Linked DNA regions of Homo sapiens. The protein of the gene in region 4 interacts with the protein of the main gene of each other region in a pairwise test. Each region holds a gene or a part of one and is shown on either strand. Other genes may lie near its edges.

Region 1 (7,026 bases), on a different chromosome or scaffold from region 4:
GATGTGGGGAGCGCCTCTGCCCCGCCACCCCGTCTGGGATGTGGGGAGCGCCTCTGCCCCGCCACCCCATCTGGGATGTGAGGAGCGCCTCTGCCCGACCGCGACCCCGTCTGGGAGTTGAGGAGCGTCTCTGCCCGGCCGACCCGTCTGAGAAGTGAGGAGCCCCTCCGCCCAGCAGCCGCCCCGTCTGGGAAGTGAGGAGCCCCTCCGCCCGGCAGCCACCCCGTCTGGGAAGTGAGGAGCGTCTCCGCCCGGCAGCCGGCCCGTCTGGGAGGTGGGGGGCAGCCTCCGCCCAGCCAGCCGCCCCTTCCGGGAGGGAGGTGGGGGGCAGCCCCCGCCCGGCCAGCCGCCCCGTTGGGGAGTTGGGGGGCGCCTCCGCCTGGCCGCCGCCCCGTCCGAGAGGTGGGGGGGGCGCCTCTGCCCGGCCACCCCTTCTGGGAAGTGAGGAGCCCCTCTGCCCGGCCGCCACCTCATCTGGGAGGTGTACCCAACTGCTCATTGAGAACGGGCCATGATGACGATGGCGGTTTTGTCGAATAGAAAAGGGGGAAATGTGGGGAAAAGATAGAGAAATCAGATTGTTGCTGTGTTTGTGTAGAAAGAAGTAGACATAGGAGACTCCATTTTGTTCTGTACTAAGAAAAATTCTTCTGCCTTGGGATGCTGTTAATCTATAACCTTACCCCCAACCCCGTGCTCTCTGAAACATGTGCTGTGTCCACTCAGGGTTAAATGGATAAAGGGCGGTGCAAGATGTGCTTTGTTAAACAGATGCTTGAAGGCAGTTAAGAGTCATCACCACTCCCTAATCTCAAGTACCCAGGGACACAAACACTGCAGAAGGCCGCAGGGACCTCTGCCTAGGAAAACCAGAGACCCTTGTTCACTTGTTTATCTGCTGACCTTCCCTCCACTATTGTCCTATGACCCTGCCAAATCCCCCTCTGCGAGAAACACCCAAGAATGATCAATAAATACTAAAAAAAAAAAAAAAAAAAAAAAAATACAAGCCGCACACGGTGGCTCACGTCTGTAATCCCAGCACTTTGGGAGGCCGAGGCGGGCGATCACCTGAGGTCGGGAGTTCAAGACCAGCCTGATGAACATGGAGAAACCCCGACTCTACTAAAAGTACAAAATTAGCCGGGGGCATGGTGGCACATGCCTGTAATCCCAGCTACTTGGGAGGCTGAGGCAGGAGAATCACTTGAACCCAGGAGGCGGAGGTTGCGTTGAGCCAAGATCACGCCATTGCACACTAGCCTGGGCGACAAGGGCTAGACTCCGTCTCAAAAAAAAAAAAAAATTAGCCAGGTGTGGTGGCACGTGCCTGTAGTCCCAGCTACTAGGGAGGCTGGGGCAGAAGAATCCCTTAAACTCGGGAGGCGGAGGTTGCAGTGAGCCGAGCCCACGCCATTGCACTCCAGCCTGGGTGACAGAATGAGACTCTGTCTCAAAAAAAAAAAAAAAAAAAAAAAAGGGACAGAAAACAAACACACAGGCCAGCCAACTAGAAGACTAAATATAATGGCAGACATATATCCAAAATATCTGTAATTACAACAGATATGAATGGTCTCCATGCTCTAGTTAAAGAGGTTAGCTGATGGCTCACTCCTACAATCCCAGCACTTTGTGCGGGTGAGGTGGGAAGATCACTTGAGCCCAGGAGTTCACGACCAGCCCAGCCAACATAGCGATACACTCTAATTAATTAAAAAGAAGTTAGCAAGTTGCTAACTTAACAAAGCAAAATCCAGCTATGTGGCGTTCATGAAAGATATATCTAGAACATCCCACTACAATTGGCTAAAACTAAAAAGGCAACATAAAATGTTGGCAAGGATGTAGAACTCTTAAACCACTCAGTCTTTGAGAATGAATTCCCAATTCTTAGGGCATCCACTCTGTGTATAAGCTGAACTTTTTCCAGACACCTAGAATGAAATTCATTATGTACCATCCTTGACAGATTTGAGAAAATAGTAACTCAACTTTCTGTGTTCTGTGGTTCAGCTGACAAGCCTGAGAACAACTGTGCAACATGTGGAAAACACTTTAGCATTACTTAGTAAAAGTTACACATACCCTACATACAAACCAAAAATTCCACTCTCAGTTATGTAGTCTTGAGAAAATGGACTTTGTTTGTTGTGGGCAGGGTGGCAAATGTCCACATGAGGACAAGTAAAATTGGTAATCTCAAAAAACTGGAAATGAGACAAATATCCATCAACAATGAAATAGACAACATATGGCACATCCTTACAATGTAACCTCATACTACTATAAGAAATCAACGGGCCGGGCACGATGGCTAACACCTGTAATCCCGGCACTTTGGGAGGCCGAGGTGGGCAGATCGCTGGAGGTCAGGAGTTCGAGACCAGCCTGCCCAACATAGTGAACCCACAGCTCTACTAAAAATGCAAAAAAAAAAAAAAAAATTAGCCAGGCATGGTGGTGCCTGCCTGTAATCCCAGCTACTTGGGAGGCTGAGGCAGGAGAATTGCTTGAACCCAGGAGGCAGAGGTTGCAGTGAGCCAAGATCGCACCATTGCACTCTAGCCTGGGCAACAAGAGCAAACTCCATCTCAAAAAAAAAAAAAAAAACAAACAAGAGTCCATGACCAGCCTGGCCAACATGGTGAAACCCCGTCTCTACTAAGAATACAAAAATTAGCTGAGCATGGTGGCAGGTGTCTGTAATCCCAGCTACTCGGGAGGCCGAGGCAGGAGAATTGCTTGAACCAAGGAGGCAGAGGCTGCAGTGAGCTGAGAAGCCGAGATCGTGCCACTGGCATTCCAGCCTGGGCAAAAGAGCAAGACTCCGTCTTATAAAACAAAACAAAGAAAAAAGAAATCTACATGGGGGCTGGGTGCAGTGGCTCATGCCTGTAATACCAGAACTTTGGGAGGCCGAAGCAGGCAGATCACCTGAGGTCAGGAGTTCGAGACCAGCCTGGCTAACACAAGGAAACCCCGTCTCTACCAAAAAATACAAAAATTAGCCAGGCATGGTGGCGGGCACCTGTAGTCCCAGCTATTTGGGAGGCTGAGGAAGGAGAATCGCTTGAACCCGGGAGGTGAATGTTGCAGTGAGCCAGGATCGAGCCACTGCACTCCAGCCTGAGCAACAGACTGAGACCCTATCTCAAAAAAAAGAAATCAACATGGATAAATCTCAAGCATGTAAGAGTGAAAGAATCAAGCATCAGAAGAATCATACAATTCTTACATTGAGAATAAGACTGAAAATGGGCACTATTAAACCATATGTTGCTTACGGATATACATATAAGGTAAAATTATTGTAAAAAAGTAACAGTAGGCTGGGGTGGTGGCTCATGCCTGTAATCCCAGCACTTTGGGAGCTCAGGTGGGCGGATCATGAGGTCAGGAGTTTGAGACCAGCCTGGCCAACACAGTGAAACCCCATCTCTACCAAAAATACAAAAAATTAGCCAGGCGTGGTGGCGGGCACCTATAATCCGAGCTACTCGGGAGATGGAGGCTGGAGATTCGCTTGAACTTGGGAGGTGGAGGTTGCAGTGAGCTGAGATCGGGCCACTACACTTCAGCCCAGGCGATAGTGCAAGACTCCGTCTCAAAAAAAAAAAAAAAAAAAGGAACAGTAGAACCTGCAGAGTGACTCATACCTATAATCCCAGGACTCTGGGAGGCCAAGCAGGAGGATCACTTGAGTCCAGGAGTTCAAGACCACCCTGGGCAACATAGCTAGACCTTGTCTCTATTTTAAAACAACAACACAAAGGAATAGTAAACCTATAATGTAGGGTAATGGTTACCTCAAGGAAAGCGAAAAGAAATGCCTTGGGAGCTGGCATACACAGGAGACTTCCAGGTAGCAGTAATGTCCTATTTCTTGGTTGTTCATTTTACTTTTTTTTTTTAATTTTACATATGGGGCCAGGCATTAAGCTCACACCTGTAATCTCAGCACTTTAGTAGGCCAAGGCAGGAGGATCACTTTAGCCTAAGAGACCAGCCTGGGCAACATAGCAAGACTCCTCTCTACAAAAAGAAAAATTAGCTGAGCATGGTGATGCATCCCTGTGGTCCAAGCTACTCAGGAGGCTGAGGTGGGAGGATGCCTTAATCCTGGGAGATAGAGGCTGCAGTGAGCCATGATCATGCCAAGACACTCCATCCTGGGCGACAAAGCAAGACCCTGTCTCCAAAAAAAACAACTCTACATATGTGTTTACCCCCAACCACCTTCTACGTTATACAATGACAACTCTACATGTTTTTATGCCTCATATATCATCTACGGTATGTATGCTGTTTTTTGGGTTTTTCTTCTGAGACAGGGTCTGTCACCCAGGCTGAAGTGCAGTGGCACAATCACAGCCCACTGCAGTCTCAACCACCCAGGCTTAAGCAATCCTCCAACCTCAGCCTCCTGAGTAGCTGGGACTACAAGCACACCATGCCCAGCTAATTTTTGTATTTTTAGTAAAGACAGGGTTTTGCCACGTTGTCTAAGCTGCTCTCCAACTCCTGGGCTCAAGTGATTCACCTGCCTCGGCCTCCCAAAGTGCTGGGATTACAGGCATGAGCCACCACACCCAAACTATGCTGTATTTTTCAATAAAAATCAGCAAGTATGCAAAGTATGATCCTATTATTTATGGAGATAGGGTCTCACTCTGTCACCCAAGCTGGAGTGCAATGGCACAATCATAGCTCACTGTGGCCTCAAGCAATCCTCCCACCTCAGCCTCACAAGTAGATGGGACTCTGGGTACATGCAATCATGCCCAGTTAATTTTTACATTTTTTTTATAGAGACAGGGTCTCACTATATTGCCCACGCTGGTCTCGAACTCCTGCTCAAGAAATCCTTCCACCTCAGCCTCCCAAAGCGTTGGAATTACACGCAGGAGCCATGGAGCCAGGCTCCAACTTTTTTTTTTTTTAAACATATACTCCATGTTTCAGGGGGAAAAAAAAGGCCAGGCACAGTGGTCCACAACTGTAATCTCAGCACTTTGGGAGGCCGAAGCAGGTGGATCACCTGAGGTCAGGAGTTCAAAACCAGCATGGCCAAAATGACAAAATCCTGTCTCTACAAAAAATACGAAAATTATCAGAGCACGGTGGCAGGCTAATCGCTTGAACCCAGTAGGCGGAGATTGCAGTGAACAGAGATCACACCACTGCACTCTGGCCTGGGTGACAGAATGAAACTCCACCTCAAAAAAAAAAAAAAAAAAAAAAATTAGCCGGGCGCGGTGACTCACGCCTGTAATCCCAGCACTTTGGGAGGCCGAGGCGGGCAGATCACACACGAGGTCAGGAGATCAAGACCATCCTGGCTAACACGGTGAAACCTTGTCTCTACTAAAAATACAAAAAATTAGCCAGGCTTGACAGCACACGCCTGTAGTCCCAGCTACTCGGGAGGCTGAGGCAGGAGAATGGCGTGAACCTGGGAGGCGGAGTTTGCAGTGAGCCGAGATAGCGCCACTGCACTCCAGCCTGGGCAAGAGAGCAAGACTCTGTCTCGAAAAAAAAAAAAAATTAGCTGGGCGTGGTGATGCATGCCTGTAGTCCCAGCTGCTTGGGAAGTTGAGGCACAAGAATCACTTAAGCCAGGGAGGCAGAGGTTACAGTGAGCCAAGGCACCACAGCACTCCAGCCTGGGCGACAGAGAAAGACTGTCTCAAGAAAATAAAAATAAAAGAAGAAGCCAGGTGTGGTGGCTCACGCAAGTAATCCCAGCACTTTGGGAGGCCAAGGCAGGTGGATCACCTGAGGTCAGGAGTTCCAAGACCAATATGGCCAACATGGTGAAATCCCATCTCTACTAAAATTACAAAAATTAGCCAAGTGTGTTGGCAGGCGCCTGTAACCCCAGCTACTCAGGAGGCTGAGGCAGGAGCATCACTTGAACCCGGTGGGCAGAGGTTGCAGTGGGCGAAGATCGTACCACTGCACTCCAACCTGGGTGACAGAGCGAGACTCCATCTGTAAATAAATAAATAAATAAATGAAGAGTATTACCTAGTCTTAAATAAAACACCTACTCTACTCCTTAATGTGAGCCCTATTTCATACTTCAAATCCAAATAGTTAACTGGATTCCAATTCAATTATGCTATGTCCAGCATGAAAATTAGTTATCAAAAAATGGAAACTTATCAAACATTGTTTACAAACGGGTAAAAAAAGGCTGGGCGCCGTGGCTCACCCCTGTAATCCCAGCACTTTGGGAGGCCGAGGCGGGCGGATCACGAGGTTAGGAGATCAAGACCATCTGGCTAACACTGTGAAACCCCGTCTCTAATAAAAATACAAAAAATTAGCCGGGCGTGGCGGCAGGCGCCAGTAGTCCCAGGTACTCGGGAGGCTGAGGCAGGAAAATGGCATGAACCCAGAAGGCGGAGCTTGAAGTGAGCCGAGATTGCACCACTGCACTCCAATTTGGGCAACAGTGAGACTGTCTTCAAAAAAAAAAAAGGGTAGAAAAAAATAAAAATTAAAAAAAAAATTTTTTTTTGAGACGGAGTCTTGCTCCATCCAGGCTGGATGAAGTCCAATGGCACATGGCTCACAGCAACCTCCACCTCCCAGGTTCAAGCAATTCTACCGCCTCAGCCTCTGGAGCAGCTGGGACTACAGGCACGCGCCACCACACCAGGCTCATTTTTGTATTTTTAGTAGAGACGGGGTTTCACCATGTTGGTTAGGTTAGTCTCGAACTCCCGACCTCGTGACCCGCCCGCCTCCGCCTCCCAAAGTGCTGGGATTACAGACATGAGCCACAGTGCCCAGTCACAAAAGAAAATTTTTAAGGAGCATCTTTGAGAAACTTAAAAAATGTCAAGTAAACTCAGCAGGAAATATCAGCATAAGTGGTTTACATTAAAATTGTAAAAACTAATCTGATAAATTTGATTCTTTGAGTTAGTAAAAAAAGGATCCTATTCCTAAATACTTGATAGTTGGGGCAAAATTACTTCAAAATCTACCACAAAGATTACATGGTGATATTCCCTA
Region 2 (7,026 bases), on a different chromosome or scaffold from region 4:
CAAGAGAGTCCATCCCTGCAGCAGTCAGACCACAAGTCCTGCTGGGGGATGTCTGCACAGACTCGGAGGCCTGACTGACGCCCTGGGCCTAAGTCCTGGCCTCACCCCTTACTGGTGCGTAATCTTGGGCAAGTTGCTCAACCATTTTTCTTTTTGGCTTCAGGATCTCCCTCTGTAAAACGAGAATAAGTGTACTACCCATTTTGTCCAATTGTGGTGAGAATAAGACAGTTTATTTCAAGAGTATTCCATAGCACATGGCACTAGTAACTACTCAGTAAATGTTAGCCATTGCCAACAAAACAATAATGAATGGGAAAGCTCAGGCGGAAAACCCATTTTTCCCCCCTTTTCCCAGGCCTTTACATGTCTGGCAAGGGTGTGGCATTTCCATTTGAAAGTTTGTGCTCTTGTTTGGATCAGAGATCAGATGCAGGGGAGAAAACGTTGCTGCAGAAAGGCCCCCTCAGCTCCAAGTGCCTTCAGTTTTATTCCTTTTGATTGCAGAAGCCAAATCAGCCTCAGCATCATTAGTGTTTTTTGGCCCTATTTATAGTTGTTCTCTCTCGCTTCTGAGCTCCTCATAGACAGGTACAGAAGAGAGTAGTCCAGTTTTGTTTAACAGACATACAAGCTGGTACCTCCTCCGTACCAGGCCCCACACTTGGAGCTGGACAGGTAGTGATGAGTCAGCGATGAATCCCTATGTCCCCACCCCAAGTTTTCCAAACTTGGGAAAACTTGGCCTCTAAGAAGTTATACGGCCAGGCGCAGTGGCTCACGCCTGTAATCCCAACAGTTTGGGAGGCTGAGGCAGGCGGATCACTTGGTCGGGAGTTCGAGACCAGCCTGACCAACATGGTGAAACCCCATCTCTACTAAAAAAAAAAAGTACAAAAATTAGCTGGACATGGTGGTGCCTGCCTGTAATCCCAGCTACTCAGGAGGCTGAGACAGGAGAATCGCTTGAACCCGGAGGCGGAGGTTGCAGTGAGCCGAGATCGTGCCACTACTCTCCAGCCTGGGTAACAGAGTGAGACTTCGTCTAAAAAAAAAACTTATACTTACTAGAGCCCAAAAAGGCATTCTTCTATGTCCCCTCTGCTCCCCAGGTTCCATCTTAGCCCACATCCAGAAGCAAAAGCACTTCAATGAGCGAGAAGCCAGCCGAGTGGTGCGGGACGTTGCTGCTGCCCTTGACTTCCTGCATACCAAAGGTGAACCCAGCCTTTGCCTTGGTGGGTGGGTTGGGCTGGCCAGCCTCTGGGTACCAAGGGAGGTGGTAGGCCAGGCAGAGGGCTGGTGCAGGAGATGGTGTGGCTGGAAGGCAGCTTGAGGTGTGAACATGCTCACCCATGGGAGTTGAGGGAGAAACAGTCCAGGATGGCTCCTAGGCTTATGCTGCGGATGGTGGGTGGGTGGTGAAGCTGTTGAGCAGCACAGGGATACAGGAGAAAGAGCAGGGAGGAGAAAGAATAAATTTCACATTGAACAGGGTATGTGTGACTGTGTGTGGATGATGTTTCTTTTCTTAGATTCTTATCGTGTGAGGAATATAAAGCTCATACACAATACAACCTTCTTAGTGTGAATATCTTGATGTTATTCCTTCTAGTCTTAAAATATACATCACCTCTGTCTCTTTTCAAAATTGGCATGATAGGATATATGTAGTTTAATATATCTTGTTCACAGTAAATGAAAAATCTATTTTTCTTTTTCCTTTTTTTTCCTTTTTAGACAAAGTCTCTCTCTGTCACCTAGGCTGGAGTGCTATGGCGCCATCAGGGCTCACTGCAGCCCCAACCTCCCTGGGCTCCAGTGATCCTCCCACCTCAGCCTCCCAAGTAGCTGGGACTACAGGTGTGTGCCACCACCTGGAAATTTTTGTATTTTTTTGTAGAGATGGGGTCTCCCTCTGTTGCCCAGGCTGGTCTCAAACTCCTGGGCTCAAGCGATCCTCCTGCCTCAACCTCCCAAAGTGCTGGGATTACAGGTGTGAGTCACTGTGCCCAGCTTATACTTTTCTATTAACATGTACATTTGAGGTATCTGTTGAAAAGCACATTGGTAACTCACAGGTTACTAGTATTTGATTTACGCTTCAGGTTACAGCCCCTTTCCTATGACTGATTATTCAGGAACTTTTGTAGTGAATTAAATCTTTCCACAAATTGTTTTTACATTTCCATAAATCTGTTTGACTATTACATACTTTTTTTTAAATTTGCCTAACAGCAGTACCCTGGAAAAAATGAATTCTGGTTTCACTTTTCTTCTAGCTATGTGTTCTCTCAGTAATAATGCCTACCCTATGGTGAGAATTTGAGATAATAACATCATCGACTGTAGTTAACACTATATAGCACTTGGTATGTGCTAGGCACTATTCTAAGCTTTTTATAGATGAAAAATGTGTATCTTGTGTTTGTATTGTATATGTGCAGCATAGATGGAGCATAGTTCCTGGTATGTCATAGTTCTTCAATAAATAACGATTTCCTCCATCCTCACCTCCCACCAGGAAGAAAGCATTTTTATTCCTAATATTAATTCCCTTAAAGCATTCTGCCTGTTGGGGGTGGGAGTGAAATGAATAACTTGTGACTTAGGTCTGCCCCCTCTGCTGTTGCGGATGTTGGCCAGCCATGTTGGTTGTGGGTGCCCGGGACCAGTGGTAGGCATGCCACTCACACATCCCACCTGGTGCCCACAATCCGGTGCAGACCAGTGTGGCGCATGTCCAGGAGGTTCAGGTTCATTGACCCCACCTCCCTCCTCCAGTGGCTGAAAGAGGTCTGCATACTGACAGTGCCCATGTTGGGGCCCTGACTTGCACCTAGGATGAAAACTAGAAGGGGGTGTCTGTACCTTCCGCAGCATGATGAATAGCATCAGCTCTGTTTCTGAAAGCTGGGATGCATAGAGGTAACACCTGCCTGACAAAGATTTACAACTGCTCCCCAAGCTGCCTCTGTAGATTGCAAAACTGGGTCACGCTTTTTACAAGATCCACACCTTGGAGGGGGTGGTAAAGGCAGGTTTTATTATTTATTTATTTACAAGAATGCACTGAAGGGAACAGAGGCCGGTGGTGTCTTAGGAGTTCTGAGGCGCTTGTTAACATGTAGCTGGCCAGCTGCCCATGTGACTAGAAGTTGGAGGGGATGAAAAACGATTTCCAGCTGAACTTGGCTGTTTGCTAAATAACTTCACACGGGGAAGATGAATTGGGCAAGAATGGGTCAGCCCTGAAACAAGTTCCATACTTTTAAATACTGGACACACTGCAGCTCAACCTCTGGGAAATGAACCGGAGCAGCTCGATGGCTGCTGTGCTCACACGGCAGCCCCATTATTACAGCCTGGCTCTCTGAGTTCTTAGGCTAAGGGACGACTGGGCCATGGGCGCCTATTTGGAGAGTAAGGCTCCGTGTGTGGCTCGTGATCCTTCTGTGGGAGCACTTGCTGTAATGGAAAATATCTTCCACTTTTAGTGCAGCGAGCTGCAGAGCAGTGCTACTCAATTTGTGCAGCCTGGACTGAGTTGCTCTGGGTTCTCGTTCAATTAGGTGACTGATGAAGTTACTGAGCTTGCTGGAGCTCAGGTTTTTCTTCTTTAGTGAAGTGCCTCCCGTGGCCTGGGCCAGGCTTTTGCCTTCTAGTCGGGAATCGGAGGACTGCTGAAAAAGTTGATCACCGACGGAGTTTTAGTGAAGCAGATTTTGCTTTTCCCATCACCCCGAGAATCCGCTGCCGCTTTCCAATACTTCCAACTGTAGCTCTGACTCTTGCTCAGCCTTCCAGCCCTGTCTCTGTGCTGCATGTGCTGTGGAAGGAAAGACAAAAGGGAGGTTTCTGTGTCCTCCACCAAAACACCATGACCCAGAGTTAGTTCTTTGTCCCTTTCTTTGGTTAGAAGAGGGCTCTCCCCGAGGTGCCTTCTTGGCCAGGTCAGCAGGTTAACCCCTCATGGGCTAAGCTGCTATCTCCAGTCGCCTTCAGGAGGCCTGGCCAAAGTGCAGAGGTTTTCTCTTAAAAACAGCAACCCTCAGTGGGCCTAGCGAGGTGGCTCACACCTGTAATCCCCATGCTTAGGGAGGCCAAGGGAGGAGGATTGCTTAAGGCCAGGATTTCAAGAACAGCCTGGCTATAGCGAGACTCCATCTCTATTTTAAAAAACAAAAATAACAGCATCCTGGTGCCAAAGCGGTCTTTGCTCTGCTGCTGGCAGGGCTGCCTTAGACATGCAAAGCAGGTGAGAAGGGAATAGGTCACTTTGGGAGATTTGGTAACTAACACTTGCTCCTCTGAACATTCAGACAGTCGCACTGAAGGAATTTTTTTTTTTAAATCGGCCACACAAGAAGAAATGAGGTAGAGCAGTTAAGCCCCCTGAGATGCTCTTAAACAAGGCACTAATTATTTCTGCATTGCTGTTCCAAGCATTGCCGTTTGCAGAGCTCTCTGCTCTGCTCTGCATTAGGCCTTCTTCTTGGTGGTCACTGTGGTACTGAGGGGTAGGCTGGCTGGGATTCATTTAGCCCTTCTTATCCCTGCCAGACTTCTAAAGCCTCCTCTTCAAAAGAACCCGCAGAATCAACTGTGCTTTTGGTTTGTGTCGCTGGTTACTTCTGCCTCCTGCAGCTCGTTGATTTTTTAATGTACCATAATTGGGAATTAATCTGCGAACTACAGCATTTGGAAAAAATTAATTGTGTGTGGAATGTTTGATAATTATCTGCATATGTTAACCATTTTTTTGCTCTTTGTCATGTCAGGCATTGCTCATCGTGATCTGAAACCAGAAAATATATTGTGTGAATCTCCAGAAAAGGTACTTTGGGCCTGATTTGGAATGTTATAGTTTATACTTACCGAGGAAGCCACCCTTGCTTTCAGGATGGATTGTTAGCAGTTCCGTTGGCCTCAGACACCAACTTGAACTGATCGTCTTGGACATGTGAGAATGTTACACTTACTGTGTGATGTTTCTGCCCATCCTCGTCCTTTCTTCGCTCTTGATCATCAGTGTGATTGATGTAAGCCTGAGAGTTTGGAAAATATATGAGACCTGCACAAAATTAATATTTTCTAGTCCAATGCATCTATCTTTATATCAGTTGATGGAAGTCGTAAATACTTTTTTTTTTTTTTTGAGACGGGGTCTCACTTTGCCACCCAAGCTGGAATGCAGTGGCATGATCACAGCTCACTGCAGCCTCGACTTCCCAGGCTCAAGTGGTTCTCCCACCTCAGCCCCCCAAGTAGCTGAGACAACAGGCATGTGCCACCACACCTGGCTAATTTTTGTATTTTTAGTAGAGACAGGGGTTTCACCATGTTAGCCAGGCTGGTCTCGAACTCCTGAGCTCAAGCAGTCCACCTGCCTTGGCTTTCCAAAGTACTGGGATTGCAAACGTGAGCCACCATGCCCAGCCAAACAACTTAATCTTATGTGAAGCAGATCTCTTTAAGTAAACGGAAGTGTATGAATTTGACAAATTCTGTGTTTATTAGGAGAGATTTAGGCACTGGTGGTGTTGGGGCCCACGTTCACAGCTCTGCGTGTATATACATGTGTGTATTCAAGAGCATATATATTGTGGTCTGGATGAAGCCGCGGCTCATAAATAAGGGGTGGCCTTGAATGAATGAGTCAGTCTGCTACTCACAACTCTTTTATGGGGAATAATAATGGATTCGCTCAAATAAGATCTTGTGACTTCTGTCACTGATTCTGTCGTAGACCTTTATAATTTATCATTATTATGATGATTACTACTAATAATTACAGTGAACACTTCTTGAGTGCTTACATTGTGCCAGGCACTTATATTTATTTAGTGTTTATGAAATATCATGAGGTAGATACTATTATTACCTTCATTTTATGGACGAGGAAACTGAAACTCAAGTTAGGAAACATGTATAGCCAGTGAGCCATGATTGCACCACTGCACTCCAGCCTGGGCAGCAGAGATTCTGTCTCATAACAAGAACGTGAGGAAAGGCAAGGCGAAAGAGAGGAATAATTGGGACCAGGCAGTGGCTCACGCCTATAATCCCAACACTTCGGGAGGCTGAGGCAGGAGGATCCCTTGAGGCCAGGAGCTTAAGAACAGCCTGGGCAACAAAGCGAGACCCCATCTCCACAAAAAATTTAAAAATTAGCTGGTCACAGCGGTTGCATGCCTGTAGTCCCAGCTACTCAGGAGGCTGAGGTAGGAGAATTGCTTGAGCCTGGAGTTTGAGGCCAGCCTGGGTGATATAGTGAGACCCCTGTCTCTTAAGAAAAAGAGAGGTTAAGTTTCAAAGGACATTATCTATCAAGAAAGTGAAAAGACAATCTACAGAATGTGAGAAAATATTTGCAGATCATATATCTGGTCAAGGTTTAATATCCAAAATATATAAAGGATTCCTAAAACTCTACAACAAAAAGACAAACCAATTTAAAAATGGACACGGGACTTGAACAGACATTTCTCCAAATAAGGTACACAAATGTCCAACAAGTACATGAAAAGATGCTCAACATCCTTAGTCATTAGGGAAATGCAAGTCAAAACCACAATGAGATACCACCACATACTACTAGGTAGGCTGTAATTTAAAAAATGGAAAATAGTAAGTGTTGTTACGGTTATGGAGAAATCGTAACCCTCATACATTGCTGGTGAGATTATATAATGGTGCAGCTTCTGTGGAAAAGTTTGGCGGTTCCTCAAAGGCTAAACACAGAATTACCATATGACCCAGCAATTCCACTCCTAGGTATTACCCAAAACAATTGAAAACAGATACTTGTATAGCAGTATTCATTACAGCATTGTTCACAACAGCCAAAAAGGTAGAGACAACTCAAGTGGTCATCAGCAGCTGAACAGATAAACAAAATGTGGTACATACATTCAATGGAATACTAGTCAGCCATAAAATGGAATGAGGTTTTGATACATGCTGCAACATGAATGAACCTTGAAAACATTATGCTAAGTGAAATAAGCCAAACATAACAGGACA
Region 3 (7,026 bases), on a different chromosome or scaffold from region 4:
AGGGTTAATAACAGAACAGGACTCGAACCCAGGGCCCCTGGGTCCCTGTCAGACGGGCAGGTAGGAACCTTTCTAGCTTTTCCCAGGCCCCTTCCTGCCTCAGTGTTCCCTTCTGTAAAGTGGCAGGTTCGGGCTGGGCTGCTCCCATAGCCTTCCCCTTCAGACAAGCGGTGAATCTGGTTTTCGGGTGACTCTGCTCTTGGAGGCAGGGCAGAAGTGGTGCCCACCACCCTGGGCCCAAGCACCGGGAATCCCTGAGAGGCACCTCCTGGGCTCAGACCCAGCCTCTACTGCCCAGGTTGGCCAGCGGCACCACCCCACAGCCTAGGGTGCAGGTCCTGGGACTACTGCCGCTCCTTCTGAATGCCTGGTTGCCCGACCAGCTCTGTTCCAGATCTGCCTAGAGGCCTCAGTTTGCATCGTGTGCCAGCCACGTGAGCTGGGCACTGCAGCTCCCACCTCCCTGCAGACATACGATGCTGGGCGGATGGAAGGACAAGCGTGCGGGCTTCCCATGAACCGGAAGCCGAGAGGGGCTGCAGCTACATGCTGGTGGACACACTTGGCCATTCTCCCTGTCACCATGACTGGATCAGGGCTAAGTCCCCCTGCCCTGCCCAGGGCCAGTACCTGAGGGCGGGGAGCCTGGAGAGCCAGGTGTGGGGCTGTCATCCACCAGGCCCAGCTCCCTGTGCAGAGCACGGGGCCGGACCACACCCAGCGTCCTCTCCCGCTTCTCTCTTGCCGCCCGGAGCTTGGTGATACTCAGCTTCAGGTCGAGCGGCTCGTCCAGGGAGTGCATGGTGAGGGGGCCGGAGTTGGAGGTGGCAGCAGGCAGTGGGCTCCCAGCTGGTCTTCACGCAGGAACCTGGGGAAGGACAGGAGCTGTGCTGTGGCACTGAGACCCCAGGCTTCTCCTCGGGCTGTACTCATGACAGTCTAACAGGAGCAGGAGCAGGGGGCAGTGTGAGGTTGTCTCCTGGGTAGGGAGACCCTCCGAGCGACCTGGCCGGCAGCTATCATGGGGGGAGAGCCAACAGCCTCCTCAGAGATTCCGCATCTGCTTCCCATGAGTCTCTTGGGGAAGACAAAGCTCACATTCTTCATTTTGCCATGAAACTGAATTTTATTTGCTGACAGAGTCTCGCTCTGTCACTCAGGCTGGAGTGCAAGTGGCACAATCATAGCTCACTGCAGCCTCGACCTCCTAGGCTCAAGCGATCCTCCCACCTCAGCCTCCCTGGTAGCTGGGACTACAGGCAGGCACCGCTCCTGGCTAATTAAAAAAAAAAATTTTCTTTTTTGTAGAGATCGGGTCTCTCCATGTTGCCCAAACTGATCTCGAACTCCTGGCCTCAAGCGATCCTCCTGCCTTGGCCTCCCAAAACGCTGGGACTACATGCCTGAGCCACCACGCTTGGCGAAACTGCGTCTTTTACAGGCATCGCCTCAGATCGCAGAGCTCAGAAGTGGAAAAACTATCAGATTTGCCAAGACCAGCTCGGTCGGGAGACTAATCCGGCGGCGCTAGAGGAATTAAAGACACATACGCAGAAATATAGCGGTGTGGGGTGGGAAATCAGGGGTCTCACAGCCTTCAGAGCTGAGAGCCTTGAACAGAGATTTACCCACGTATTTATTGACAGCAAGCCAGTCATTAGCATAGTTTCTATAGATTATAGACTAACTGAAAGTATTCCTTATGGGAAATAAAGGGATGGGTCTGGCTAGTTATCTGCAGCAGGAGCGTGTCCTTAAGGCACAGATCACTCATGCCATTGTTTGTGGTTCAAGAACGCCTGTGGCCGGGCGCAGTAACTCACACCTGTAATCCCAGCACTTTGGGAGGCCAAGGCGGGGAGATCACGAGGTCAGGAGATAGAGACCATCCTGGCTAACACGCTGAAACCCCAACTCTATTAAATAACAAAAAAAAAAATTAGCCAGGTGTGGTGGCGGGCGCCTGTAGTCCCAGCTACTCGGGAGGCTGAGGCAGGAGAATGGTGTGAACCCGGGACGCAGAGCTTGCAGTGAGCCGAGATCGCACCACTGCACTCCAGCCTGGGCGACAGAGCAAGACTCCGTCTCAAAAACAAACAAACAAACAAAAAGCCAAACGCTTTTAAGCAGTTTTTCCGCCCTGGGTGGGCCAGGTGTTCCTTGCCCTCATTCTGGTAAACCTACAACCTTCCAGCGTGGGCGTCATGGCCATCATGAACATGTCACAGCGCTGCAGAGATTTTATTTATGGCCAGTTTTGGGGCTAGTTTACAGCCAGATTTTGGGGGGCCTGTTCCCAACAAGATTCAAGGCCTGAAGCCAGATCTCCCGGGAACTGGCTAGCCGTGTCCTAACAGCCTTTTCTGACAGAGCAGGAGCCATGCTCCGGACTCCCGCCCTGTTTGACCCCAAAGATCTAGAACCAGGCCAGGGGGCAAGGAGCATCCTCTGAAATGGCCGGCAGGTAGCCACGCTCACCACCAAGGAACTCGCACCAGGCAAACCGAGAAAGTGGGCACAGCCAGGGGCCCCACCGCCCTCCCTGCAGAGGCCTAGAGGAGAGGCATCGCAAGCCAGGGAGCCCCAGGGCGCTGGGTCGCCACCAGGGGGCAGCTGGGGATTGTGGCCTGGCCTGGCCAGCTGGGGCAGGGTTGGTGGAGTTGACCAGCTGTATCTGGCGGTTAATATATAAATATGTAGAAATTATTTTTTACTGGAGATGGTATTCTTTTAGTATCACTTCCCATGCTGTAATTTTCATCATTTTTCTTAGAATTTCTCACTGGTTTAATTTTCATTTTCTTTTTGGAAATGGAGTCTCTCAGTCACCCAGGCTGGAGTGCAGTGGTGTGATCTGGGCTCACTGCAACCTCTGCCTCCCGAGTTCAAGCGATTGTCCTGCCTCAGCCTCCCAAGTAGCTGGGATTACAGGTGTACACCATCACACCCAGCTAATTTTTCTATTTTTAGTAGCGACAGCGTTTCACCATGTTGGCCAGGCTGGTCTCAAACTCCTGACCTCAGGTGATCTGCCCACCTCGGCCTCCCAAAGTGCTGTGATTACAGGTGTGAGCCACCTCGCCCCACCTGGTGTAATTTTCCTCACATGCAAATGATCTAACAGTATCCACCGACCCAAGAACAAGGTCAACACTTCATTCTAAACCCAAACTTCACATTCAGAGCAGCAATCTTTTCCTACGCGGTTAAACACGACATTTCCTTGCGTTTGTTCATTGGGATTATTACAACTTGAAAATCTAACTGCCGCACAATCACGCTGTGAGATCCCGTCTTTCGCGGTATTGGGGTCTTTACTCAATACCAAAGGGCGGCCATGGTGGACATAACTACTACATGGTGAAATACTTTGGATATGCCCCCGTGTGTTTCCCTGGGGGCTAGCATAGCCTGTGAGTGGGGAGAGATGCTGTCCACAGGGCAGGACAGGAAGGCAGCTCCCACGTCCTCCCCTTCTGCCCTGACTCTCCAAGCAAGTAGGGCATAAAATGGTCCCCCCTTCACTGGAGATCCTCTGCTTCTAGGGACACATCCCCAGACCCCACCCCAACATGGCTGACACGGGGGTCTCAGCACAGGGGGGCTGCCCACCTCTCCCAAGGCTGCATCATCAGAGCCAGGGCAGCTGCACTAGGCCGTGGGACCTAGGTCTGCGATTCGCCCCTGTTGGAGCTGTCAGATTGTTTGAATTTGCCTCCCAGGCCATGCATGGGCCAGGGGCTCCCAGAGATGCGGTGGGGTAGGGACCACACCCCCGCTAGCAGGTGGGTGGGTGACAGTGATGGATGGACCAGGGTCCCCTCCACTGTTTCTCTGGCTGGACAGGGAGTTGCCCTCTGCCTGAACCCCTGCCAGTTCCATCTGTCTATCTGTGTGTCTATCGTCCTGCTACCTGTTTATTTTTAGACACAGGCGCAATCCAGCCTCCCCGAAGCTCCTCTGTGCTGGAAGCCTGGACGGGGAGGAAGGAAGTAAATATTTATGCTGATGAAGAATTCAGGAGCCAGGAAGGGCTGGTGGCCTGGTCCCTTGGCTGGCCTGGGGCCACAGGCCTCCCCACAGCCTCTGTCCTCACCCCCACCCCCACCCTTCCGGAGAAGGGGACCACAAGGGCAGGATGGTTTGGGAACTGGGAATTCCAGCTGACGGGGACACTCACTGGCAGCGCTGCCCAAGCAACATCCTTTGGCACCTGCCCCACTGCCTTCCCAGGACAGATGGGGACTCGGGGAGCCAGGGGCCCTGAGTCACCTTGTTCTTAGGGCCTGCAGGGGACACTTCCCCAGGAGGAGCCTGTCTCCCCAGGTGGGGCCAGCCACACGGCCCAAAGCCAGAGGGAGGACTCCAATGCACCCCCTTCATCAGCAGGTCCAGTCCCCAGGGGCACCCCCACACACTTCCTGCCACTGGGTCCTGCCAGGGAGGCAGGGGTTCATTCCAATGCAGGCCAGAGCCCGGCACACGGCCTGCGTCCCTGCCCCCGGGAAAGGAAGGAGCTGCCCCCAGCCCTACACCTCCCAGCATCCCTGTTCCAGGCCCTCCCCACCCAGAGTTTTTCCTCCAATGGAGGCCCCACCCCAGAGGGGAGACGGTCAGTGACCCTGCTTCAGTTCTGACCTTGGCCAGGCTTAAAGCCTCCCCTTCCACCCCCGCCCCGACCGGCAGCAGCCAGTTCTGGGCTCTGCTCTGTGCTTTTGTTCCCGGCTGGGTGAAGGGGGCAGGCGAGAGCTAGGTTCCTGCTCTCCTGAAAGCCTCGGAGGCCCAGAGCGGGGAGCAGCGGGCCTGCAACCAGGGAACCCTGAGTGAGTGCCCATGAGCGGGTGGCCGTGGCTCTCCCCAGCGTAAGGCCGACAGCCTGGCTCTGGACAAGCTCAGCCAGAGGCCTGGGTGCTAATTACTGCGGGGTCCCGAGGGCAGGAGCCGGCTCTCGGTCAGGTGGGGGCACCCCGTGGATGCTCCCCGGGCGCAGCGCAAGGCCCGCCGGCCCCACGCCCCTCTGCGCCTCCTGGTGGAGCCTTCCGTTCCTCAGTTTCCCCCCGGTGGGACAGCGCAGCGTGGAGGGTGCACAGAGCCCAGGGCCGCGTCTCTCGAGCACTCAGCCTGGGATGCGCCCAGGGCAGCGCCCCCACACGCAAGGGCCCAGGGGTTGGGGCGAGGGCTGGGGTTGTCGGTGGGGGGTGGGGGTGGCCGCGGAACCGGCCGCTGCGCGGCTCCTCCAGCTGCAAAAGGAACTAATTAGAGCGGGGCGAGCGGGAGGAAGCGGCTGCGGCGAGGGAGGAAGCGCGCGGGGGCGGCCGCGGGGACCACCGGGACGGCGGGGGCTTCGGGGGACCGGGCCCTGCCCTTCCCACCCACCGCAGGGCGGGGGTCACCCGGAGGGTGGGCTGGGCGGGCCCCCCGCCACCCTGGCCGAGACAATGGCTGCTATTGTGTGCCCGACCGCAGCCCGAGCAGACGGCCCCCAGCTGCAGCGCTGGCGGAGCCACCCGGCCCCCCGCCCGCAGTCCCCGGCCAGGCCAGGTAGCCAAGGATCCCGCCCTGGCAGGCGGGGCCGGCCACTGTCCCCACCCTCCCTACTGGAAGGCACGGGGCGACCCAGCACACTCAGGGAAACTAAGGCCCGGAAAAGACAGTCTCTTCCAGGGCCCCTTGGCCTGGGGTGGGTCATACACCAGAGGGGGTAAAGGACCATTAGGTACTGACCACGTGTCAGGCCCATCTGTCCATGGATTCAATGACCCCTCTACAACCCTGCCTGGCAGTAGCTGCTGTCATTTTCCCGATCTCACAGATGGGGAAACTGAGGCTTGAGATCACTAGGCTAATAGGGAGCTGGTTGGAGTCCTGCTCTGAATAAAGCTCCTTCTAGGCCAGGCGCGGTGGCTGACGCCTGTAAGCCCAGCACATTGGGAGGCCGAGGCAGGAGAATCCCTTGAGTGCAGGAGTTCTACACCAGCCTGGGCAACATGGAAAAATCCCGTTTGAAGTAAAAAAATCAGCCGGTGGCCGGGCACGGTGGCTCATGCCTGTAATCCCAGCACTTTGGGAGGCCGAGGGCGGACCACCTGAGGTCAGGAGTTCCAGACCAGCCTGGCCAACATGGCGAAACGCTCTCTCTACTAAAAATACGAAAATTAGCCGGGCGTGGTGGCAGGTGTCTGTAATTCCAGCTACCCGGGAGGCTGAGGCAGGAGAATCGCTTGAACCAGGGAGGCAGAAGTTGCAGTGAGCTGAGATCGCGCCACTGCACTCCAGCCTGGGCGACGGAGTGAGACTCCATCTCGGAAAAAAAAAAAAAAAAAAAAATAGCTGGGCGTGGAAGCAGGGACCTGTGGTCCCAGCTACTCGGGAGGCTGAGGTGGGAGGATCGCCTGAGCCTGGGGAGTTTGAGGCTGCAGTAAGCCGAGATCACACCACTGCACTCCGGCCTGTCTCAAAAAACAACAAAAAAAGCTCCTCCTTTCCTGCTTGGGGGAGGGTGGCTGGCAGGCCCTAAGCCTGTGGAGGTGCAGGGTGCACTGGGGGGCTGTGTGCACCCACCCTGAGAACCACTTGGTCTCTTTGCAGAAGGAAGCGGGTCCTCTGTAAGATGGGGCTGCATCCCTGCCCCGCTCCCAGCAGCATGGGGTCAGGTGAGTGACCAGCGTGGCAGTGTTGTCAAGGGCAATGTGAGGAACACCCCTTGCCTTGGAGTGTCCTGCGAGTGCGCTTTTGGTCAGCAGTGGCCATTTAGCTGAGAACTTGGAGACAAGGCCTCAAGATGCATCTCTCAGAAGTCTATGTGGTCACCTTTGTTTTTTTTGTTTGTTTCTTTTTTGAGATGGAGTCTCACTCTGTCACCCAGGCTGGAGTGCAGTGGCACGATCTCAGCTCACTGCAAGCTCCGCCTCCCAGGTTCACAGCATTCTCCTGCCTCAGCCTCCTGAGTTGCTGGGACTACAGGCGCCCACCACCACACCCGGCTAATTTTTTTGTGTGTATTTTTTTAGTAGAGATAGGGTTTCA
Region 4 (7,026 bases):
CAGTGAAATAAAACACAGAGAACGCAGCATGTGGAAGTCTTTTTAAAAATGTTAATCTATCTTCCTGTGTAGACACTGGCACCTTAGGTGAAAGAAGTGAAAATTTGTTGTTGTTACTCTTTCCATAATTCTCATAGGTTTGTCCTATCAGGTTATCGCCTAAGTGCTTTTTTGCCTAGATGCCTTTAAAAACGTTTGGAAATGACTTGAAAATATTCAGAGTGTATTTTAAACACTACTGTTACGCTACTGTAAGGTATTTACATTGATGTATAGATGTCATGTTATTCTGGTGATGTGTTTTTAAAATCTTCATTGTAAAGCCTAGTTAGCTAGTTTATATGTGATTTTTTAAAAAGCATAGCCTCTGGTACCATTTAATATCTACTGTTTGAAGCATGCAGTTGGAATCTTTATGTTAAAATATACAGACCTTTCAGATATTTTAAATAATACTTGTCTATTAGAGTGAAATTTTGAAACAAAACGTTTGATCAGTTATTCTTTGGAAGCTTCAAGTCAATTAATATGTTAACTTTTAAACATGACTGGCAGATCTCAGTATTTAAAGGAAATCTACTTCCTATTTGTTGCCATTAGCTGTAGTTACTTGAGATACTTGGTAGAGGTAAATATTGTAGCACAAATCCTTTTAGTAACAGTTACTTTTTAAGGACCTTTGCAACTTGACAATTTATATTTCAGGATTCTCCTGACATAGACAAAATGGCAAAGGTTACAGTTTTCTAGACTTTAGCTTTATAACCAAAATATGTTTTTATATATATTTATATATAAATATATAATATATGTAAATTATATAGTTATATATAACATATGACATATATAATTATAATAAATATATATTAAAAATTTTGGTCATATATACAACATATATAACTATATATAATTATATATAGTTATAATTATATATAGTTATATATAATATATAACAAATTATATATAACATAATTATGTTATATATAATTGTACATAACATATATACATATATAGGTATATATACGTATATATGTTATATATAATTATATATTATATATAAAATATAAATAATTATAAAAATATAATAATTATTAAAATATATGTTATATATAAATACAATATAAATTATATATATAAATATATAATTTATATATTATATGTGATATATATTATATATTATATATAATATAATATATAATATATATCACATATAATATATATTATATATAATTAATATATATAATTAATATAATAATATATATAATATATAATATATATGATATATATTATATAAATATATAAATATATTAATATATTAATATATAATATATATAATATATATTATATATTAATATTAATATATAAATATATTAATATATAATATATATTATATATTTATATATATAAAATATATAATTATATATAACATATATAATTATATGTATGTTGGTTTTTTTTTTTAGATGGAGTCTCTGTTGCCCAGGCTGGAGTGCAGTGCCGCAATCTCAGCTCACTGCAACCTCCAACTCCCGGGTTCAAGTGATTCTCCTGTCTCAGCCTCCCGAGTAACTGGGACTACAGACACCTGCCACCACACCTGGCTAATTTTTGTATTTTTAGTAGAGGCGGGGTTTCACCATATTGATCAGGCTGGTCTCAAACTCCTGACCTCAGGTGATCTGCCTACCTTGGCCTCCCAAAGTCCTAAGTTTACAGGCGTGAGCCACTGCACCTTGCCTATATATTTCTTAAAAACTACTTTCTTTTGATGACAAATCAGAAAAGTAGTTAGCTGAATGAAGGTAGAAATTCATTTTAATTGCAATATTAAATGGGAATTTTTCTTTTCTTTTCTTTTCTTTTTTTAGAGACAGGGTTTTCCTGTGTTGCCCAGGCTGGCCTTGAACTCCTGGGCTCAAGTGATCCTCCTGCCTTGGCCTCCCAAAGTGCTGGGATCACAGGCATGAGCCACCACACCTGGCCTTAAATGGGAATTTTAAATGGTAGAAGAATGGTGTTTATAAGGAAAAACATCTGAGAGAATGGAGAAAACCAGGAAGCTGGACTCTCCCTGTCTCCTTCTCCACTCTTCCTCTTGAGTGATGTAGTCAGCTGGATGCTAAGGAGGAGGAACACTCCATGGGCTCTATGAATCTCAAACATTTCTGAATATAAAATATTTTCAAGTGTTTATAAGCTTTTCCTAGAGTATCGTCCCATGACGAAGCTGATCTTCCTTCTCAATTCAGCATAGAAAATAAGGGTAACCTGAGAAAGAAGCAATGGTAATAAATAGACCCAGAGTATATTCTTCCAATAGGGGATTATTAAAAATAAATCTTGAAATTCTCTAATATTTCTTTTCTTTTTCTGTTAAGTTGCTATAGCCCAAGGTGGAACAATCCAGATTTCTAACCCAGGATCTGATGGTGTTCAGGGACTGCAGGCATTAACAATGACAAATTCAGGAGCTCCTCCACCAGGTGCTACAATTGTACAGTACGCAGCACAATCAGCTGATGGCACACAGCAGTTCTTTGTCCCAGGCAGCCAGGTTGTTGTTCAAGGTATATTTTATTAATCTAATACATTTAGAATACCTATGGATTACTATATCACACCATTGAGTGGTGATTTTATAGTTTTTTGAAATAGATCGAAGGTAGATGGTGGGGGGTTGGGAGGCACTTAAAAAGGCTTACAGAAGAAATATTTTAATACATTAAACAGCAAATTAAGTTTTATCATTTTTCGCCTTTTAGCAGGTTTTACTGGCTCTGGAGAAAGGCCAAATTCAGAGTAGCATGATAGAAAAAGAGAGATAGAAACATGAATGAATTTTTTTTTTTTTTTTTTGAGATGGAGTCTCGCTCTGGCGCCCAGGCTGGAGTACAATGGCGTGATCTCGGCTCACTGCAACCTGTCTCCTGGGTTCAAGTGATTCTTCTGCCTCAGCTTCCCGGGGAGCTGGGATTACAGGCATGAGCCACCACGCCTGGCTAATTTTTGTATTTTTAGTAGAGACGGGGTTTCACCATGTTGGGCAGGCTGGTCTCAAACTCCTGACCTCAGATGGAGTCGTCCTGACCTCAGGTGGAGGCCTCAGCCTCCTAAAGTGCTGGGATTACAGACGTGAGCCACCGCACCCGGCCACATGAATGAATTTTTAAATTAATTAGATATCCTTCATTTGGGGGTTGCAAATGTTGTACCTAATAGATTTCTATTACCTAATCTATGACAATTTAAGTATTCAGGCTATGATGCCCCAAATTTGTTTTTTTCCCTAGCTGTTACTTTCAAGTCTAATTTCTAGGCAACTCATTTCAAAACAAATGCTGACTTTGGGTTTTTTGTTTTTTTTTGTTTGTTTGTTTTTTTGACTGACTGTTCTTAGTTGTTTGAATTCTGAAGTATCCATTCTAGCTCTTATGGAAGCTGTCAGTAATGAAATAAAAGTTGAGATGTAGCCCTAAGCTTTTAGGGTTACCTGAGATTTCAACTGGATTTGCGTTATACATTATTTTAATTCAGTTGTGCCTATGATAACTGTAATAGATGTATTTAATACAGCTTTCAAAACTCCTGTGTTTTAATTGAATTCTATTCCTCTTGGTCCATTCGCTTAGGATTTAGGATATAGCACTATTTTTTAAAAATTTGCTTGCTTGTTTGTTTGTTTGTTTATTTATTTATTTATTTATTTATTTTTGAGACAGAGTCTCGCTCTGTTGCCCAGGCTGGAGTGCAGTGGCGCGATCTCGGCTCACTGCGACCTCCGCCTCCCAGGTTCAAGCAATTCTTCTGCCTCAGCCTCCCGAGTAGCTGGGACTACAGGTGCATAACGCCATGCCCGGCTAATTTATTGTATTTTAGTAGAGACGGGGTTTCACCGTATTGCCCAGGCTGGTCGTGAACTCCTGAGCTCAGGCAGTCCACCCACCTTGGCCTCCCAAAGTGCTGGGATTACAGGCAGCACTAACGTTAAGGAAAGTAAAATCAGTTATTTTAGTTCGAATGTCTTGCAGGTATGATAAGCATATTATAATTGATGAGTCTCTTGATAATTATACTCAGGTATTTTGGGGGTTAATGTGGACTATGGTAAAAGTGTGTGAAGAACTGAGGTGGTGGCATTTATGGAGTAAAAAATGCATAGTACAAACCCAGTACTTTAATGTTTTCTTGAAATGTAAAATGAAAGCCACCTGTTCTATTCCCCCCATACTCATGGACCATATTTATGTCTAGGTGAATAATCTTAAAGAATAATTATTTCTTCTCATTTTATCTTTGTTACATGGAAGAATCTACTGCAAACAACAGAGTTTTGAGAATTTTTAATGTTTTACACAATATGCACGTAAGTTTGTGCCTTGGGGTTTTTAAGAATTTTCTTCCACAAGTCACAAAGATTTTTTTCCACATTTTCTTCTATTTGCTTTATGGTTTTACCTTTCACATTTATGTCTTTAATGTATCTGGGCTTCACTTCTGTATATAGTATTTGGTGGGAATTCATTTTTAACTTTTTTCTCCGTATATGGAGCCACTCCCAAGGGTTTGTTGTTTCCTCACTGGTGTATGGGGCAGCCTTAATTAGACAGTGGGTTTGCTTTTGCACCTGGATCTGGCCAGTCTTCTGTCTGATTCATCTTTTTCTGAATCCCAGCGCCATACATGTTTGTTATCTCATAAAACAAGTTCCCCTTGTCTTTTTTCTCAGTTTGATACAGAGTTAGTTTTTTGTGCACGATTATTCTTTCATATGCATTTGGAATAAGTTTGAGTTTCTAAATAGTAGTAGTAATAATAATAATAATAAAACCAATGATGAGACTGCATTAATTTTTTTTTTCTTGAGATGGAGTCTCGCTCTGTTGCCCTGCCTGGAGTGCAGTGGCACGATGGCTCACTGCAAGCTCCACCTCCCGGGTTCACGCCATTCTTCTGCCTCAGCCTCCCAAGTAGCTGGGACTACAGGCGCCTGCCACCATGTCCGACTAATTTTTTTGTATTTTTAGTAGATACAGGGTTTCACCATGTTCGCCAGGATGGTCTCGATCTCCTGACCTCATGATCCGCCCACCTCAGCCTCCCGAAGTGCTGGGATTACAGGCATGAGCCACCATGCCCAGCCAAGACTGCATTTAATTTAGGGAGAGCTGAAGTCTTCATAATGTTAAGTTGACCTATCCCAAACCATAGAAAGTCTTGTTTATTCAGATCTCATTTTACTTCTTTTAACAGTTGAACATTTTTCTTTTTATTTATTTATTTATTTATTATACTTTAAGTTTTAGGGAACAGTTGAACATTTTTCTTCACGGAGATCTTGCATATTCTTTCTTTAGTTGGTTCCTAAGTACTTTATGGGTTTTGTTGCCATTACAATGGTACCTTATTTTGTATTGTATTTTCTAATTGTTGCTGGTGTAGAGAAATACGGATTATTTTAAGTCGATCTTTTATCTATTAACTTTGCTGAACTCTAATTACTTCTAATAATTTACTGATTCTTTGTGATTCGGTCTGTGATCCTATGTGAATGTTTATACAAATAGTGATGTTTTGTTTCCTCCCTTCCAATCTTTATTCCTGTTTTCTTTTTCTCTTTTTTTCTTTTCCTTAAATAATCATGGCCAGGAGCTCCAGTTTAAACACAGCAAGGCCAGTGGGCATTCTTGTCTTCCTGAACTTAGTGGCAGTGTTCCCTGCCCTCCTTCTCCCTTCATCTCACTGAAGGGCCCTGTCAGCTTCTTTGTGGATTCTCAGTGCCTGTCTTGGCTGATGCCTCAGCAGTATTTAACACTGTCGACTTCTGCTTCCTCCACTTCCTGAGACTGTGTCCTCCTTGCTCTTCTCTCTCTGCTGCTTCTCTGTCAGTCCTGTTGCTGGGCTAAGCTTCCCCTGCCCCTGTCCTGAGTGTTTCAGTGATCCTCAGGCTCACTCCCCCACCCTCTTCCTGCTGAGCTCCCTCCCTGAAGGACTCCCTCCCACGCTGGCTTCAGTTCACTGTGACTATGTCCTGACTCCAGCTGGTTCCTTAGATGGCCACACATACCTCTGACTCCTAAAATCCACTCTTCCTATCTTCAGTGATTGACCACTACTATCCTTGATGCCAGAAACCTAGGTGTTGTCCAGTATTCTTCCCAGTCTCCATTCAAAGTCACTGTGTAGATTCTTCTGCCTGGCTGAGCCATGAATGCTTCTGCCACTCCACAGCCCTCTGTCCTGGCCCTGGCCCTGGCCTGGGTGCTATCCCTCTGACCCAGGCTACCCCTGTGGGCTACAGTCTCCGGCAGCCACCGGAAGCTGGCTATTGTGGAACAGCTTTCTGATCCTCCTAATCATGCCAGAGGCAGCAGCTCCCTTCTTGGCTCAGTTTTTTGGGAATTGTTCCTGAAAGTTCAGCTAAACTCTTCATTCCTCACAGTGATTCTGGGAGCCACTGATAGTTCTTAAAAACAGCAGTTTCTTGCCCCCAACATCTCCATTACTGCATTGCACTTGTTTTGTTTTGTTTCGTTTTGTTTTGTTTTGAGACAGAGTCTCACTCTCTTGGCCAGGCTGGAACACAGTGATGTGATCTTAGCTCACTGCAACCTCTGTCTCCTGGGCTCAAGCATTTCTCCTGCCTCAGCTTCCCGAGTAGCTGGGATTACAGGCATGTACCACCATGCCCAGCTAATTTTTGTATTTTTAGTAGAGACGGGGTTACACCATGTTGGCCAGGCTGGTCTTGAACTCCTGAGTTTAGGTAATCCGTCCATCTCGGCATCCTAAAGTGCTACGATTATAGGCATGAGCCACCACACCTGGTGTCTGGGGTCTTTTTAATAAGGGCACTAATCCTGTTCACAAGGGTGTCACCCTCATGACCTCATCACCTCTCAGAGGTTCCACCTCCAAATACTATTGCATTGGAGGTGAGGATTTCAACAGAGGAAATTGGGTGGGGATACAAACATTCAGTCTATAGCATCCACTCAAAAGCATCCATCAATGTCTGTGACCTGTTAG

What was found.
Region 1: the proteins of CREM (region 4) and UBAP2 interact in binary tests that used the Homo sapiens proteins (3 or more experiments, as listed by UniProt).
Region 2: the proteins of CREM (region 4) and MKNK1 interact in binary tests that used the Homo sapiens proteins (3 or more experiments, as listed by UniProt).
Region 3: the proteins of CREM (region 4) and GLIS2 interact in binary tests that used the Homo sapiens proteins (3 or more experiments, as listed by UniProt).

Annotation. Positions count from the first base shown.
Region 1 is NC_000009.12:34,038,869-34,045,894, forward strand, and holds part of UBAP2 (ubiquitin-associated protein 2), read right to left. Parts: intron 1-7,026. UniProt on the Homo sapiens protein: Recruits the ubiquitination machinery to RNA polymerase II for polyubiquitination, removal and degradation, when the transcription-coupled nucleotide excision repair (TC-NER) machinery fails to resolve DNA damage. May promote the degradation of ANXA2.
Region 2 is NC_000001.11:46,566,254-46,573,279, reverse strand, and holds part of MKNK1 (MAP kinase-interacting serine/threonine-protein kinase 1), read left to right. Parts: intron 1-1,112; coding exon 1,113-1,217; intron 1,218-1,740; coding exon of another isoform or gene 1,741-1,863; intron 1,864-3,024; exon of another isoform or gene 3,025-4,781; coding exon 4,782-4,837; intron 4,838-4,982; exon of another isoform or gene 4,983-5,074; intron 5,075-7,026. UniProt on the Homo sapiens protein: May play a role in the response to environmental stress and cytokines. Appears to regulate translation by phosphorylating EIF4E, thus increasing the affinity of this protein for the 7-methylguanosine-containing mRNA cap.
Region 3 is NC_000016.10:4,326,057-4,333,082, reverse strand, and holds part of GLIS2 (zinc finger protein GLIS2), read right to left. Parts: intron 6,654-7,026; exon of another isoform or gene 6,589-6,653; intron 4,824-6,588; exon of another isoform or gene 4,743-4,823; intron 3,974-4,742; exon of another isoform or gene 3,914-3,973; intron 869-3,913; 5' UTR 803-868; coding exon 631-802; intron 1-630. UniProt on the Homo sapiens protein: Can act either as a transcriptional repressor or as a transcriptional activator, depending on the cell context. Acts as a repressor of the Hedgehog signaling pathway. Represses the Hedgehog-dependent expression of Wnt4.
Region 4 is NC_000010.11:35,185,822-35,192,847, forward strand, and holds part of CREM (cAMP-responsive element modulator), read left to right. Parts: intron 1-2,378; coding exon 2,379-2,567; intron 2,568-7,026.